2 separate regions of the Homo sapiens genome follow, and region 2 is linked to region 1. The links come from fine-mapping of genetic effects on gene expression. A gene starts in region 1. The other region holds a variant in brackets. All regions are shown on one strand. Distances are between the middles of the regions. Region 1 holds the start of POMT2 (protein O-mannosyltransferase 2). Region 2 overlaps POMT2 (protein O-mannosyltransferase 2).

Evidence for each region.
Region 2: its variant is fine-mapped to the expression of POMT2 in lung (GTEx, PIP above 0.99).

What each region holds. Positions count from the first base shown.
Region 1 is chr14:77,316,670-77,324,929 of GRCh38, reverse strand. It overlaps POMT2 (protein O-mannosyltransferase 2), which reads left to right and starts at 4,047. Exons shown (of 21, transcript NM_013382.7): 1 at 4,047-4,496. The coding sequence starts at 4,249. GSTZ1 (glutathione S-transferase zeta 1) reads right to left here and starts at 3,894. Exons shown (of 9, transcript NM_145870.3): 1 at 3,747-3,894; 2 at 9-60. The coding sequence starts at 3,761. RefSeq lists enhancers at 3,231-3,280, 2,812-3,673, 3,551-3,820 and silencers at 3,901-4,280, 4,511-4,560.
Region 2 is chr14:77,290,596-77,298,995 of GRCh38, reverse strand. It overlaps POMT2 (protein O-mannosyltransferase 2), which reads left to right. Exons shown (of 21, transcript NM_013382.7): 8 at 225-307; 9 at 2,723-2,832; 10 at 7,616-7,682. Among named protein-coding and RNA genes, the nearest start is that of NGB, 24 kb to the right of the region's middle. The variant G/A (reference allele first, on the strand shown) is at 3,417.

The sequences.
Region 1 (8,260 bases):
TCTCTTACCAATTCGAACTCTCCATGAGCAGGAGCTTCGGAAATAGGAATAGAGGATGGGCTGAGGAGAGAGAGGATGAAGGCGCGTGTTAACCCATGCTGGGTGGGCTCCAGCTTGGGAGGAGTCAACCATTTCTTCCTGTCCTGCCAGGCCTCCTCTCTCAGGCCTGCATCTGTGCAAATCAGGGCAGACTCCAAGCTCTCTGAGAGGCTCATGAGGTCCCTTGGCTCCAAAATTATGCTGGTTTGAGCTCCTGAGGTCCAAGAGGCCCCCAAAGGGGCAGCTAGCCTGAGAGTGCCTTCCATACCTTGCCAGACTCTGTCATGGTATCGTGGTGACCCTCAGCCTCCCAGGAAATGTCCCCTCTGGCACAGCTTCTGAGCAGGGAAAGGAAACCTAAAGGGGTGGATTTCAGGAGCCAATGGGGAAGCTGGGCTACCCAGGCATTGGGGGAACTTTGACTCTGGTCAGAAAGGGCATTTCTGGCCAGGCACAGTGGCTCACGCCTGTAATCCCAGCACTTCGGGAGCCAAGGTGGGTGGATCATTTGAGGTGAGGAGTTTGAGACCAGCCTGGCCAACATGGTGAAACCCTGTCTCTACTGAAAATACAAAAAAAAATCAGCCAGGTGTGGTAGTGGGTGCCTGTAATCTCAGCTACTCAGGAGGTTGAGGTAAGAGAATAGCTTGAACCTGAGAGGTGGAGGTCACAGTGGGCCGAGATCGCACCACTGCACTCCAGAGCGAGACTGCGTCTCAAAAAAAAAAAAAAAAAAAAGGCATTTTTTTCCAACTCGCAGGAAGTTTCTTACGCTCCTGCTGGGGCCAGGTTTGGTGTCCCCCCAACAGAGCGTGGCCTGGTTTTGATGCAGTATTTTGAGTGGTGGAGCGGGCTGGGAGCTGGCATCTGGAGTCTGGACCTGGTGCAGGAACCAGCTCTGCATGACCTTGGACAAACCTCTGCCTTTTTAAATCTTCGGCTCCCTCATTTGTAAAACAAAGGTTGCCCTAAAATGATGGCAGGGCATCCTCTAGCAATGCAGCAAGACAAGGAATTCTAATTTTTTGACGCTTTGGTACATATCTCCTTCAACCCCACCTCCCAGCAGTCCTCCGGGCTCTCGGCTGTCCCCATAAAAACAGCTGGCAGATATGCTCACTCACCCCAAAGGTGAGGTCAAAAGCTGGCAGCTCACTGGGGCCCTATCTGGCCCTCAGAATTTCTGTTTGCTCAACACAGTAGTTTAAAATGTTTCAAGTAGTTGCCAATGTTTAAAAATCAGGACATTTCATTCTAGTATGGTGGGTCATGCCTGTAATCCCAGCACTTTGGGAGGCTGAGGCCAGCAGATCACCTGAGGTCAGGAGTTCGAGACCAGCCTGGCCAACATGGCGAAACAACATGGCTAAACAAAAATTAGCCAGGTGTGGTGGTGTGCATCTGTAATCACACCTACTTGGGAGGCTGAGGTATGAGAATTGCTTGAACCCAGGAGGCGGAGGATACAGTGAGCCAAGATCGTGTCACTGCCCTCCAGCCTGGGGGACAGAGCAAGACTCCATCTCAAAATAAATAAATAATAAAATAAAATAAAAATAAAAATCATGATATTTTATATACAACACCTGTTTGTTTTTTTTCTTTAAAAAAATCTGGAGACAGATTTGGGTTCCTAAATAGCAGCAATTGATGGGAACAGACTAATGGCCCCCATCAACCAGCGTATGCGCTCTCAGGTCTGCCATGGCCCATATCTGGCCCACTTTTCTCATTTTTGTTACCTTTGGGCCCTTGGGGGCAGCTGGGTGTGCGATCTCTACTCCAAGGTTTAAGGGGCTCAAAGTTAATTTCTCTGGTACTTCTTCGGGAGCCAGCATTTCAAAGTGGAACCCAGGAAAGACTCGCCAGTGATTAGCACTCATGAATCTTCCCACCAAAACATGTGTATCCCTATGGATAGGGGAGAACTTGAAAGAACTTCTCAGATGCCCTGTTTACTACCCCTCTGACTATAGACATTTCACCAAAGCTCCCTCTCCCCTCTGCCACCCCTAGCATATTAAGCTGCTCTCTGAACTTGCTATTGCCATCCCTGTACTACCAACTCAGTCTGCTAGATGGCAAGGGTGTAAGTGGGAACCTAGGCCCTTCCAAGATGGTTCCCAAGCCCAGCAGTCCCAGCCTGTCCTGAAGGTACCTTTTGTGGAGAAAGTAAAGATGGTCCTGGCACAGAAAGCAGGTGATGGGCAGAAAGTGTCTTTCGAAGAGGAGGAATTGGGTGGCCACAACTGGATCTTCCTTATTTGGAGATGCAACTCCCTTTCCTTACCTAGCCAGGCTACAGGGACTCCTGGTGCCAAGGGACAGGGACTGCTGGTGACCACTAGAGTGTGGCAGACATTAATTAGCTTAGAATCCCTGAAGAAATGCCTTACCTAATGGCTAAATGCCTTTGGATTACACCTTTGGATCTGTACTACGAGTGACCAGAAGCATGGTAAATGCTGCTGCCCTCCGTCACGACCCACAAGCAGGAAACCTGAAATCTCTTAGGCAATTTCTGCCTTCTCTTACCAGTGATAACTATGTAAACCATGCCCCGTTCCTTTCTGCACTTGTAGAACTAAACTTTAAGCCCAAGTATCCATCTCATCAGCACTCCTAGAAGACCTGTGTTTCCAATTCAAATATGCATTCTGATTACTTTAGCAGATTTTATTTTTAAACCATGTCTTACACATGATTTGAGAAAAAGACTCCTAAAATCCCATTTGGAAGAGGGAGGACTATACATTATTAACGTGACGCAAAGTCCCATCTAACGTGCCACCTTCCTTAGTGCCACAAAAGTGGTTCTCAAACTTCATGGCACGTTAAGAACCATCTAGACCGCTTATAAAAACATGCAGATTCTCGAGCCCGTTCCACCAGAGATGAACAGAGTGGCTCTGGAGCAGGCCCCGGGAAGAACATGTGAAAGCCGTGAAGCTCCCCAGGTGATTGTCATGACTGCCTCTCCTCGCTCGGGGCCTTTTTTTTTTTTTTTTGAGCCGGAGTCCCGCTCTTTCGCCCAGGCTGGAGTGCAGTGGCGCGATCTCGGCTCACTGCAAGCTCCGCCTCCTGGGTTCACGCTATTCTCCTGCCTCAGCCTCCCGAGTAGCTGGGACTACAGGCGCCCGCTACCACGCCTGGCTAATTTTTTTGTATTTTAATAGAGACAGGGTTTCATCGTGTTAGCCAGGATGGTCTCTATCTCCTGACCTTGTGATCCGCCCGCCTCGGCCTCCCAAAGTGCTGGGATTACAGGCGTGAGCCACCGCGCCCGGCCCGGGGACTCTTAAAATACAAACATTACTGGAAGGTCACCTCCTGCTAGGGCCAAGAGAAGAGCATGAAGGGCTGCGAGAAATTGGGAGGCTTGGGGCGACGTTTGGAAGCCTTAGTGGAGGGAGGGGTCTGTTATGGGGAGCAGGGAGGGCGGAGCAGAAGTGAAGCGCGACCGGACAGCGACTCCACCCTGCTACGCACTCCCTACCAGGACCGCCTCCTCTGGCCCAACCCTCCCGGAACTTCGAGCCCCAGCGGGCAGCGCGCAGCACGCAGGCGCAGAGCGTGCCCGGCGCAAAGCACTGCATGCCGGGAGTCGTTGTCGGCCTGGGCGGGCGGTGCAGCTCACTTCTGACCCCGCCCCCCAGGGTCTCCAGGTGTCTAACCAGCTTCCCTCCACCCGGGTGCGCGTCACAGACCTTCCCCGCCTGCATCTGGCACTTCGCGCGACCCCCTCCTCCAGGCCGAGAAACTTCGCGCCTGGGACCTGCCGACGACTAAGGCTCAGTGAGACTCGACGAATCAGGCCCGTGTCTTTCGTCCGGGTAAAGCGAGGGGCTGGACTAGAAAGATCCTTCCGGTCGCCTCTGGCTCGCCCAGCTCTCCCGCCACGCCCCGTACCTGGGGGCTGCTGGGAGTTGCAGTTCCCTGAGCCCGACCCCTCCTGCCCAGTCCCCCCCGCCCCGGGCCGGCCGGCCCTCCCGGTCCCGACATGCTCTGCGCCTCCTGCCGCCTCCTAGCGGCCCGGGCCGCGACCACGCTGCCCGCCCCGCCCCGAGCCCGGGGCCCCGCGCTCCGCTGCAGTGAAGGGCGTTGCATTTCCCGGGGTACCCCGAGCTGCCCTCTTGTGACTCCTTGGCGGGGCGGCTGGTCAGACAAAGTGTGCCTCCGGGCCGGAGGGCGACCCAGAGGAGGGGGAAGATGCCGCCGGCCACGGGCGGAGGCCTGGCAGAGTCCGAGCTGCGTCCCCGGAGGGGCCGCTGTGGCCCCCAGGCTGCTAGGGCCGCAGGCCGGGACGTGGCCGCTGAGGCTGTGGCGCGAAGCCCCAAACGGCCTGCTTGGGGCTCACGGCGCTTCGAGGCGGTCGGCTGGTGGGCCCTGCTGGCCTTGGTGACGCTGCTGTCCTTCGCCACCCGCTTCCACCGCTTGGACGAGCCGCCGCACATCTGGTGAGTGATGGGAGGGACTCGGCGGGCACCATGGCAACCGCGACGGGACGCCGCCCTCTGATTGGCCCGAGGGTACGGAGGGGGCGGGATCTATAGGAGGAGGGCCACGGTGGAGGGGAACTTGAGGTATCGGGTGGGTTGGCCTCTGGCGAGGTGCATTCTCTGGGAGGGGGATCGTTTTGCTCTGGTGGTGGGGCAGTGGGATTCTTAGTATCTGAGGAAGCAGCCCTCATGTCTTCCAGGTTATGCTACAGTGCATCACCTGGCTTGCAAATTGTGGCTTTTAAAGGTGCTTTCAACTTTCCAAAGAGAATTGCAAATTTTTGGGTACAGAATTTTCTAAGGCCTGAGTTCCTATGTCTGCAGGATTTTCAGGCATCAACAGAGGAGAAAATACCTAACTGTGTACCTTTATCCTATAGGGCAAGGACAGTTTGGGTGTTCAGGTATGGTGACCAAAGGATTTTATGAGGCAGAACTCTTCTTGTGAGAAGAGATTTATTTTCTTAAAGGTTTTAGCTTGTACTATCCAGATACTGGGTGTCAGAAATGGAATTCTTTAAGCAAAAAGCAGGCAAGAAAACAGACTGTCAGGGTTGCTTTATTTAGAAATTAATAAATTAGCTTGTTATTGTGTCGTGACTGCTGGCAGAAGATGAGACTCCTGGGTTAGAGACAAAGGACTTTATTACAGGAAATAGGATGCATGTTAGAAGCAGTTTCCCTTGCCATCCAAGTCCCACAGGGTGACGCTATGGGTTTAAATGGATGACTGCACAGGCAGTGGGTTGCATCCAAGTGAAGGAACGACAAGCTTGGAAAATCTGCTGTTTTATAGAAGGCAGTACGCAGACCTCCTCTTTGTCCTGGAGGGAGACACTGCCTCTTCTCTCAAAGTTGCTTGCTGCAAACACAACCATGAGAAATGGCCCAGGTGAGATGCAGTCAGGGCCTTGCATTCTTGGTATACCCAGAATGATGTGTAGAGGCACGAGCAATCTGACAGCCTCTCTCACTCCTCGATTCTATGGTCTTGGCTTCTAGCAGATTTTCACATGAATATACAACTCCCCTGGCTACTCACATCTTTTCAGTTTGTCCCTTACAGCATTTAATTAAGGTTGTTGTCAATGGGACTCTAAGCAGCAGAATAAGGCCAGCTTACAGTATTTACCTCAACCATGCCCTCCAGGGTCCTGGATTCAGCCACTTGTGAATAAGTCCTGGGGGCACCGAGGAATCTTATTTCAGACATCTGGGCTGCAGTCTAAGACCAGTCTATTAACCACTGTGACCTGTGCACAGGGGTTCAGATTGATCTCTGATCTTTGGTGTCATTACCAGTAATTACAATAGCCCACTACCCTTGTAAAAATTTTTTTAAGAAAGTAATTACCAGGCTGGGCGCAGTGGCTCACACCTGTAATCCCGGCAGTTTGGGAGGCCGAGGCGGGCAGATCACCTGAGGTCAGGAGTTCGAGACCAACCTGGCCAACATGGTGAAACTCCGTCTCAACTGAAAATACAAGACTTAGCCGGGCATGATGGCGGGTGCCTGTAATCCCAGCTACTCGGGAGGCTGAGGTGGGAGAATCACTTGAACCTGGGAAGCAGAGGTTGCAGTGAGCTAAGATCGCACCATTGCATTCCAGCCTAGGCGACAAAGCCAGACTCTGTCTCAAAAAAAAAAAAAAAAAATTAACTACCATGATTAATGGAAAGATATTTTGTGACCCATTCTTCCTTACACTAACATATTACTTGGAGGAGTGCAGGCCACTCCAGGATTTTTGTTAGATTTTTATTTGGATCACCATCAAATTTGATTACCATTACAGTGGTTTAAACCACATGGGCAGTGTCACTGAACAGTTGCAGCCTCAATCACTAGACAAGGCATAACCTAAGTAAGGCCCTTAGGATCTCAGGAGAAGCATGTGATTTGTATCAGCCGCATTGATAGAAGGTGGTGCTGATCTGTGTGTTTGCACACCTATGAGGGAGGTCTGCGTTTGGGAGTTGGTGTTGATGTCATCAGGCACGTGGGAATAGTTCAAGACTGGCCGTGTCCATGTGAGTTTTTGTTTTCTTTTTTTATTTTCTTTTTTATACTGACCTGCTAGATAAAGTTTTTATGTTTTCATAGTGAGATGACAAACTCAGCCACAGGTCAGATTGCCAGCCACAGTTGCTGCTTGACCTAGATGGACCATGTGAATGTTTGCCAGGCTTTGGTGCTGGATAGGGACAAAGAGAACATTGTTTCCCTTCTCTTTACATCTCCAGGGTCCTGTGGTGTTCCTTCCCCAGATGCCAGGATTGTTTCTTTCCTTCCATTGCTACATAATGAGTGTGTCCTACCCTAGTAACTATAACTTCACCTTTTCTCCATTTATCCCCTACCAATACGCAGGCCTTCTAATATCCAATTGTTAGAAAATTGACAGAGGCCCATTATGTCTTCTACCTTGACACATGTGGGCCACTGTAGGGGGACTTTAAAAGCACTATACCCAACCAAATGATCATTAACTTTATGTTCTGGCACCAGGCCATTCCAACAAGACAATCTAGTGACTGAACTAGAATTAAGTCTGAATTACATAGATAGCCTCCTCCTCCCAGCTGATCTGGGCTTTCTGTAAGGGGGAAGAAAGATGAATCATGGCCAGAAATGGTCAGGGGAGAATCTCACATTTTCAAAATAGGTTTATATAACCCTCCACCCCTTTTTCCTGATCATTACCCAGTTGGTAGGCAAAAGGAGATGACCCATTTCTGAGAATGGCTGCCTTAGGTGACCAAACTGCTTCAGTAAGGTTTGCAGACCAGGAGGAGGTTAAAAACATAGAATCAAAAATCTTTTTGAGTTGATCTTTGAGGGAACTGTTCAGTACTTGACAATGTCATGCCTGTGGATGGTAGGGAGTGTGGGAGGTCCATCGAATACCTTGGCTATTGACTGTTGACACTGTTGGGTGGCCATTGCGACAAAAAGATATGCCAGTGTCAGACTGTAGATGGTTTGGAAAGCAGAAAACCTGGCAGTTTAGTTTCAAGGGCCACAGTGGTATACACAGAGTCAGATAATTGGACTGGAAAAGCAACATCAGCACTGTAAACTGAAAAAGTATCAGCAGTAGCAAGGTACTGATGAGAGCCTAGAGAAGGGAACAAAGTCCTAATGTCAATCTCCCAGGAGCAGGTGTGGTCAGTGCCCCTTGCAATGTGGCTTCCTTTACTGCAAGACAAGCAGGCCAACTTTTGGCAGGAGTCACAAGTCTGGCACGCAGTGGTGGCTTCTGCCTCAGAAACATGTAGTCCCTTACGTTGTGCCTAGCCCATGATGGTAGATGTTTCCACACCGGTTGCATGAATCCAGGTGGCTATGGCAGCAGTCTTGGTGGTGCAGGCTGGATCAGCAGTTTGATTCCAGTCAGTCTTACGAGAGTACCTGCCCTTAGTGTGGGCACCTACGTGAGTGATCCAGTCTGTCCTATTGGCAGGCAGCCATGATGTGTTTCCACACTTCTCAGCTTTCATCTCTCAGTATTTAGTCTTCCAAGTGGCATACCAAATGCTTCAATCCTTACTGCCATCAGCCATCCAGAGTTATCATTGGGGCTAAGTGCCTGCTGCTGCTTGGTGGGCAACATCAGCTTTTAACTCAGCCTAATCATTGGTGAGCCAGGCCTAAGCATTTACAGGAACCCCTGTGAATCAAGGGCCCTACTGAACAGCAGCTCGGCTTCAGGTAGCAGAGA
Region 2 (8,400 bases), 26 kb after region 1:
AGGAACTAAGGCTAAACAAGGTTATCTTGCCCAAGGTCGCACAGCTAGTAAGTGGCTGAGTTGGGATTTGGACCCCAGTTTCTCCAACTCCATCACCCACCTCTGTCCCATGATCTGATTCTACTTTCCTTAAACTATCTGAGCAGAGCTCTTCCCAGCGCTCCTGGGAAATCACACTTTCACTCCTTTAACTTGACTCTCTTCTGCTCTTCCTCTCCCCACAGTGGCCCTGGTGACGGTTTCTTCAGTTCTGCCTTCCAGGCCCGGCTTTCAGGGAACAACCTGCACAATGCTTCCATCCCTGAACGTGAGTGTCTCTGGGCCATTACAAAGGTAGAAGGCAGAGGGGTGTCCTGGGAGTTGAATTGGAAAAGACAAATATGATGGCTTTGGGTTATTTTAGCCTGTGATGGCACGGTGGGAGAAAGACCCAGATAGATCTGGTGAAAATACTCGAGAGTGAATCAGGACAGAGGAGAGGAAGACATCCTGAGCAGCAAGCTCTCTGACCCTAAAGAATGACTTCTCCTTGGTGGCTCTCCAAGCCAGCTCTGTGGGAAGGTCACTCAGAGAGAATATGGTGACAGCACCAGGCCCTTCAGAGCCAGTTTTTGGTTTCCCGCACCGCTTTCTGAGTGTTGCATTCGTTCATCTATGACAGATGGTAGTGGAGCGCGTGCTCACCCTCCAGAGATGGAGCCTGGTGTAGAGGAGCTCCACACGGTGTGGCTGGAAGCGTTAAGTACGTAAAGAGGGAGCACAGCTCTGGGGATTGACAGGCGTGAAGGAGCATGGCTGCTGGGCGGTTAAGGGCATCAGAGGTTCGTGATGTGGGTTGCCTTGGAGTCAGGCCCTGGAAGAATGTGTGGCTTTCAACAGAGGAGAGGGCATCTCAGGCAGGAGGGATGACATGATCAAAGCTGAGGACAGAGTAAAACTTGAGGCACAGGTATATGCAGAAAACTACTGGAAGATAAATGTGAAAAGTTAGGTTGGGCCCAGACTATGAGGGTTTGAGGTGTCTGGATGAGGTATTTGACTTCCTAAAACAGGCCGTGGAGACCTAGTGGAGGTCTTTGAGCAGCCAGGAGGCCAGGAAGGCTGTGCTATAGGGAGATGACATGGGTGGGAGAGTCGAGGCTGGCTGGGGAGGGGACAGGATTGTAGGCAAGAGAAACCCTCTGGGAAGCTATTGCAGGAACCTGAGCTGGGTATGGTGGGGCAGCCACAGGGTAAGGCAAATGGGCATATACAAGGGAGATCTGGACACAGCAAGAGAGGAAGAAAGATGTCACTAAGGACTTGAGTGCAGGTGATTGCTTCCTGGAGGCAGAGACTGCATCTTACTCATTTTAGTCTTTCCAGGACTTTGCACAGTGCCTAAAATACAGCGGACTCTCCCAGACTGGGAAGAATGAGAAATAGGGAAGCAGGAGAAGAAGTTGGGTTGGAAGGGCAGATACTGAATTCCACGCGAGAGGGGTTGATAGTGAGCTGCTTGGGGAAATTGTTGCCATGGGGCCAGTGGGATTTGGGGCTGATGCTTTCAAAGGAGGAATCAGACAAGTAAAACGGTAATTGATGCTGTGGCAGTAGCTGTGATTTGTAAGGAAACTGTAGAAAGAGGAAAAGAATAGAGCTGAGGTCAGATCACTGGGGAATGCAAGAGGAGGAGGAATTAGGAGAGGAGACTGCGGAGGAGCAGCCCTTGAGAGAGTGTGCGGTCGAGAAGTGGGAACAGAGAGCATTTCAAGAAATAAAGGTGGTCAGCCATGTGCAGGGCTGCCGAGGTTGGCCTGCCTGAGAACTCAGAAGAACACAGCTGTGGAGTTTAGCAAATTCCTGCTCATTATTTAAAGGCCTAGTTCAGCTGTCACCTCTTCGATCAAGTCGTCCTCTCTTTAATCCTTGGGAGAGAATTTGGCCTGTTCCGAGTTCCCACCATTCCCACCATGTCACACATTGTCACGCCTTTGTGGGGCACTTGCCCACTGTCCTATACTTGTCAGTGTGTGAAGCCATCTTCCTTGTAGACAGGGCTCTTCCAGGGCCACAGGCAGGCCTCCTCCACCTTTGGATCCAGTGTGTAATTCTTCTGGTCCACTGAATGAACAAAGAAAAACAGGAGCAGGTCATTCCAGCGGATTGGAAGAAGGACAGTATTAAGGAAAAAAGGTTTCTCAATAACTCAGGGCCTATAGGAGCAGGGGATGCTCTTGAGAAGTGGTTTTCTGTGTTTTTTGTTTTTTAATTCAGAGTAAAACAAAACACCATTGAACAGTTATTTCATATGGTACTAGATTCAAAAGGCACGAAAGGATATAGAGTGAAAAAAATGGTTTGTCAAAATGCTGTATCTTGGAGAACATTCCAGGCGAAGACAGAAGATACTTCCTTCTTTATTCCATTGAATCCATGTGGAGACCTTGAGAAGGACAAGTTGTTTTTCGTCTTTTGCTGTTACACGTAGTGCTTTGATAATGACAGTGTTAACACAAGCTTCTTCTGAAGCCCTCAGGAGGCGGGGGAGTAAGTGGGCCCTGTGGTGAACTCTGTCTTGAGTCGGCTCCATGGGAGTGAGAAGGTAGCTGGGCTTCAGTCCAGGGCCCAGGGGAGTCTCGCAGAGGGTTAGTGAGCCCTGTGGCTTCCGAGGCTCCTCGCAGGCACGGACAGCCTCTGGCACTGTGCCAGCTCACCCCTCTGCTGTCTCCCTTCCTCCCAGACCTGGCCTACGGCTCTGTGATCACTGTGAAGAACCTCCGGATGGCCATCGGCTATCTGCACTCCCACAGGCACCTCTACCCCGAGGGCATTGGTGCCCGTCAGCAGCAGGTCAGTGAGCCTTTTGTGCACTTGTACGGCAGCAATGCTGTTCGCCATGACAGTTCACTCTCTTGCCTCCTATCCTTTGCTCATCCTGTTCGCCCTGCTTGAAACATTCTTCCTAGCCCTGCACCCTTCTGTTTTCTCTGGCTAACCCCAGCTTCTCTAGGCATCAGCATAGGTGTTCTTTAGTGACAACCATGTCCCACCTCTCCATGGTGCTGGGTGGGGTGCCCCTCTGATGAGAGGCTTGGTGGCACCTTCCACATGCCTACGTGGTAAACCTTCTCATATTGAACTGTGCATGCTTACTTCCCGCCGTCTCTTTGGTACTTGATTGCTAGCTCCTGGAAGGCTCAATTGCCTAGCACGGTGCCTGCTATGGGATGGGTGATGAATAAAGTGTGGTATTTATGAACACAGACCTGGGAACCAGACTAGATGATCGGGGTGTGAAGCCTGCTTTCATATAGAGTGTCACTTTGGACAAGTTCATCTTCTTGTGCTTCAGTATCCTCTTCTTTTTTTTTTTTTTTTTTTTGAGATGGAGTCTTGCTCTGTCACCCAGGCTGGAGTGCAGTGGCGTGATCTCA[G/A]CTTACTGCAAACTCCGCCTCCCGGGTTCACGCCATTCTCCTGCCTCAGCCTCCCGAGTAGCTGGGACTACAGGCACCCGCCACCACGCCTGGCTAATTTTTCGTATTTTTAGTAGAGACAGGGTTTCACCGTGTTAGCCAGGATAGTCTCGATCTCCTGACCTCATGATCCACCTGCCTCGGCCTCCCAAAGTGCTGGGATTACAGGCATGAGCCACCGCGCCCAGCCTGTATCCTCCTCTTTAAGTTGGGGAAAATGAGTAGTACCTCTCTCCATCAAAGGGCAGTTGTGAGGATTAAATGAGATAACAATGTGAAGTGCTTATGAAAGATTAGCCATGTGAGTATCATCTGAATGAGTGAACGATGCTGTGTCCATGTTAAGGAGTGTTTGTGTGGCTGCAGTGGATGGTGCCTGAGAGGGAGAAGCAGGATGCTGAAGAGGTTGGTGGGGCCATATTGGGGAGAGGCCTGTGTTATAGTAGATTTGACTTTGCTCCATAGACATTAGGGAGGCAATCAAAATTATTATGATTATGATTAGATCTCTAGTTTAGAAAGGTAACTTTAGTGGAAATGTGATAGCTCACAAGGAACCAGTTTGGAGGCAATAATTATGACAAAGGACAGTGAACAGAGGCAAAAAGCATGGAATCTTTACTTTGCAAAGATTTGTTCTTTGCAAAAAGTTGTCTCTCTCCAAATGCTTTATTTTTATTTCCCTTTTAGTTGCTAGAAAGTGACTCAGTATGTATTAGTGCAATTTCATGCTGCTGATAAAGACATACCTGAGACTGGGCAATTTACAAAAGAAAGAGATTTAATTGGACTTAAAGTTCCACATGGCTGGGGAGGCCTCACAACCCCGGTGGAAGGCAAGGAGGAGCAAGTCACATTTTATGTGGATGGCGGCAGGCAAAGAGAGAGCTTGTGCAGAGAAAATCCCATTTTAAAAATGGTTTTAAAAACCATCAGATCTCTGGCCAGGTGCGGTGGCTTATGCCGAGGTGGGCGGATCACTTTAGGTCAGGAGTTTGAGACCAGCCTGGCCAACATGGTGAAACCCCATCTCTACTAAAAATACAAAAAAATTACTCGGGCTTGATGGCACGTGCCAGTAATCCCAGCCACTCAGGAGACTGAGGCAGGAGAATCACTTGAACCGGGGAGGTGGAGGTTGCAGTGAACTGAGATTGCGCCACTGTACTCCAGCCCAGGCAAAAGAGTGAGACTCCATCTCAAAAAATAAAAAAATAAAACCATCAGATCTTGTGAGACCCATTCACTCGTGACTCAATCATCTCCCACCGGGTCCCTCCCACAACACGTGGGAATTAGAGGAGCCACAAGATGAGAATTGGGTGGGGACATAAAGCCAAACCATATTACAGGGTATTGGATTTTAGTATCAGTTTCTTATCCTTAATTCTCCATTCATGTCTGGCCCAGTGGTTTTCAGCCCTGGCTGCACTTAGAATCAACGGAGAGATTTTTAAAAATTCTGATGCCTGGACTCCACTGCAGAGATTATGATTTAATTGATCTAGGATGAGGCCCATGCATTATGCATTTTTGGTTTGGTTTTAAGCTGTCCAAATTATTCTAAGTCATGTACACCCAGGGCAGAGAAAACTAGATGTTCTGTGTTCTCATGTGTTGATAAATTGCTGCAGGTGTCATGTAGAAGACACTACAGTTACAGACCTGGTGACCAGAACATCTACACTGTGCAAAGGGAGAGAAAGGCCAAACTCTGAAAGGCTCTGTTAAGCTAGTGTTATGTACGTAGAGCCCATGTGTGGAGGTGTGAAACGTGATGGTGGTATAGGGAAAGTGCATTGCGCCAAGGGACGAAAGTGTCTGGCTTTGTCATTGACCAGATCTTTTAGCCTTTCATCCTGTTTCCTCATCTGTAAATTGAGGGGATTGGACTAAATAATCTCCAGTGGCCCTTCCTGCCATGCAGTTTAATGTCTTGTTAACATGTCTAGGTCTCTATTTTAGAATGTTTTTAAAGCATAGCATTTATAAAATTGGAAAATGTAGAAAAGTATAAAAAAGAAAACAAAAGCTACATGTAATCCCAGAAGATTAAGTGTTTATCTGAATGTTTTAATGTACAACATTCTGCTATAATTGGATACTTGTGTTCTTAGGAAATCTCATGGTATAAAAATCTCCATTGTCAAAACAAACATTTCAGTGGGAAAAGGGGCCATGGACTGTACTCATGATAAATAAATAATTTTTCTTGTAGGAATTTTAATCATAATTGCTCTTGTAAAACAGACACACAAAGACTGCTCTCCTACCACACATCTACACAGAGTACACACACGAGCATCATAGAACCTTAACTTCCTTGAGCAAATCCAGGCTGGATGGACGATATCGAGCTTTTTCTCAGGAATGTAGACTTCATTTTAATTTCTTTATGAGCACCAAAACTTTTTAGCTTCTTGTATATTCTTAATAACATTATCCCTAATTTTTTTTTCCTGAGGAACAAAGCAAATACCACTCAAAAGAAGCAGCCATAATGCAAGCAAAATAATTTTTCCCCTAAATGCTAATTCTAAATCTCTTTGTAAGTACAGTCATGCATCGGGGGGATACCTTCTGAGAAACAGGTCATTAGGTGATTTGATCGTTGGGTGAACATCATAGTATGTACTTACACAAACCTAGGTGGTCCAGCCTACCACACACCTAAGCTACATGGTATAGCTGATTGCTCCTAGACTACAAACCTGTATAGCATGTTACTGTACTGAATACTGCAGGCAGTTGGAACACAGTGGAACACAATGGTAAGTATTTGTATTAACTTAAACATATCTAAACATGGAAATGGTATAGTAAAAATATGGTATTATAATCTTATGGGGCAACCATTATATATGCAGTTTGTTGTTGACCAAAATGTCTTTATGTGGCATATGACTATAAATTGGTCATATTTTATCCAATTGGGGTTATAAAAACTCATTTGTGAGAGTTCTCTACTTGTCTACATAATTGGCATAATTGGACGTATATAGTCTCTATCCTGGGAGCATTTATTTTGCGGCCCTGGTTTGAATTCTGTCTCCCCAACGCATAAGCTGTGTGACCTTGAGCAAATTACTTAACTTCAGTTTCCTTGTAAGTAATGTGGGGATAACCATAGTACCTATGGCATAGAGCTGTAATAATGGTTAAATGAGATAAGACTTGCCCAATGCTTAGAACAGTGCCTGGTAATAAATGGTAGCCATTTTCAGCATCAGCATTTCATGAGCCTTTTCCCATGTTGCTAAAAAAATGCTCTGAAACATTTTTTATGGCTGTATAATATTCTATCCCAGGACATACTATCATGTTAACTATTTTTCTATTACTAGACAGTCATACTGTTTCCAGATTTTTTGTATAAAACGTGAGTTAAATTCTAGGACAGGATATCTGTGGAGCTTTTTCGTTTCATTTGGCCACATTATAGAAAATATAATAGCATGAATTTTTCATTTAGAAAGTTTGAGGCATGATCTTAATTACTTTTTTTTTTCCCAAGATAGAGTCTTGCTCTGTTGCCCAGGCTGTAGTGCAGTGGCGCGATCTCAGCTCACTGCAACCTCTGCCTCCTAGGTTCAAGCGATTCTCCTGCCTTAGCCTCCTGAGTAGTTGGGATTACAGGCGCGTACCATGCCCGGCTAATTTTTGTATTTTTAGTAAAGACGGGGTTTCACCGTGTTGGCCAGGCTGATCTCAAACTCCTGACCTCAGGTGATCCGCCCACTCTGGCTTCCCAAAGTGCTGGGATTACAGGCATGAGCCACCACACCCGGCCTTAATTACTTTGAAAATGCACTTAAATCCTCATTCTGTTTTTGTGTTGGAGTCAGTTATATAAGGCCTCATGGTTCCTCCCTCTAGAAGGCTGGATGGAACTTTTAGGACAAGATGCAGAAAGATACAAAGAAACAAAAAGGCTCTTGTGGGACAAAGCTTCTAAATGCAGAAGGAAGGAGAGAATCTCACTCACCAGTGCTACATATGAGCCCCATTGGGAAACATGGCCCCTCAGGTTGGTGGCTGGGGATTCTGAAATTGGCTTAAGCAACATTGGTTTGAGGTTGATTGTCCTTGGCCAGCTGTGCTGATAGTGATGGTATTCTCCCTCCTGCTTCCTCTTCCCTCCGCCCCCACCCCCCACCCAGGTCACCACCTATTTGCACAAGGACTACAACAACCTGTGGATTATCAAGAAACATAACACAAACTCAGGTAATGTGGTCAGAGACTGATGCTTCTTGTGCTGTTACTCCCTCTGAGCCCTCCTTAAGATTTCTCATGCCTGCAAAAGAATGATCCTGAGATGGGCTTTGCTGAGCATCTTTGACACCTTTACTTATCTCAATTATCCTTTCAATTATTATTTATTAAGCACCTACTGTGTTCCAAGCACTGTTGTTGGCATAGGGGATAAGCATTGAGCAAAACAGGTAAGAACTTGCTCTTAGAGCTGTCATTTTGAAGACAGATAGCGGAGCCCAGATTTAATCTAAGTAGAGGTTACTTGAGCATGCCACTAGGGGCTGGTGAGTGGCCCCAGCTGAGGGCACCTGGCTGCTGCTCTCATTTCTTACATAGAGCACACCAAACATTGCACACTCTAGCATGTGGTGCAGCTTAAGTCGTCTTGATAAGATAGAATCCTGCCCACTGCTCAGCCCTGGCCTGAGTCAGTCAGTTGATCTGAGGGGCTACTAGTCCTGTGACTGGAATTTGTCTAGGCTAATTCCTGAGATGTGACTCGATGCCTGCTGATCTGCTTCTAACTGGCCTGGGTGAAGGCGCTCTGAAGCACACCTATCAGGCTCTCAGGGCTTTATGACAGAGCAAGAGCTAGAGCCAGATCTTCCTTTCTTTGGTCAGACAGCTAGCTACCTGCAGGCTGTGCCTCTGCTGCAGCTAAGAGAACAGAGGGCATCTTCCACTCACC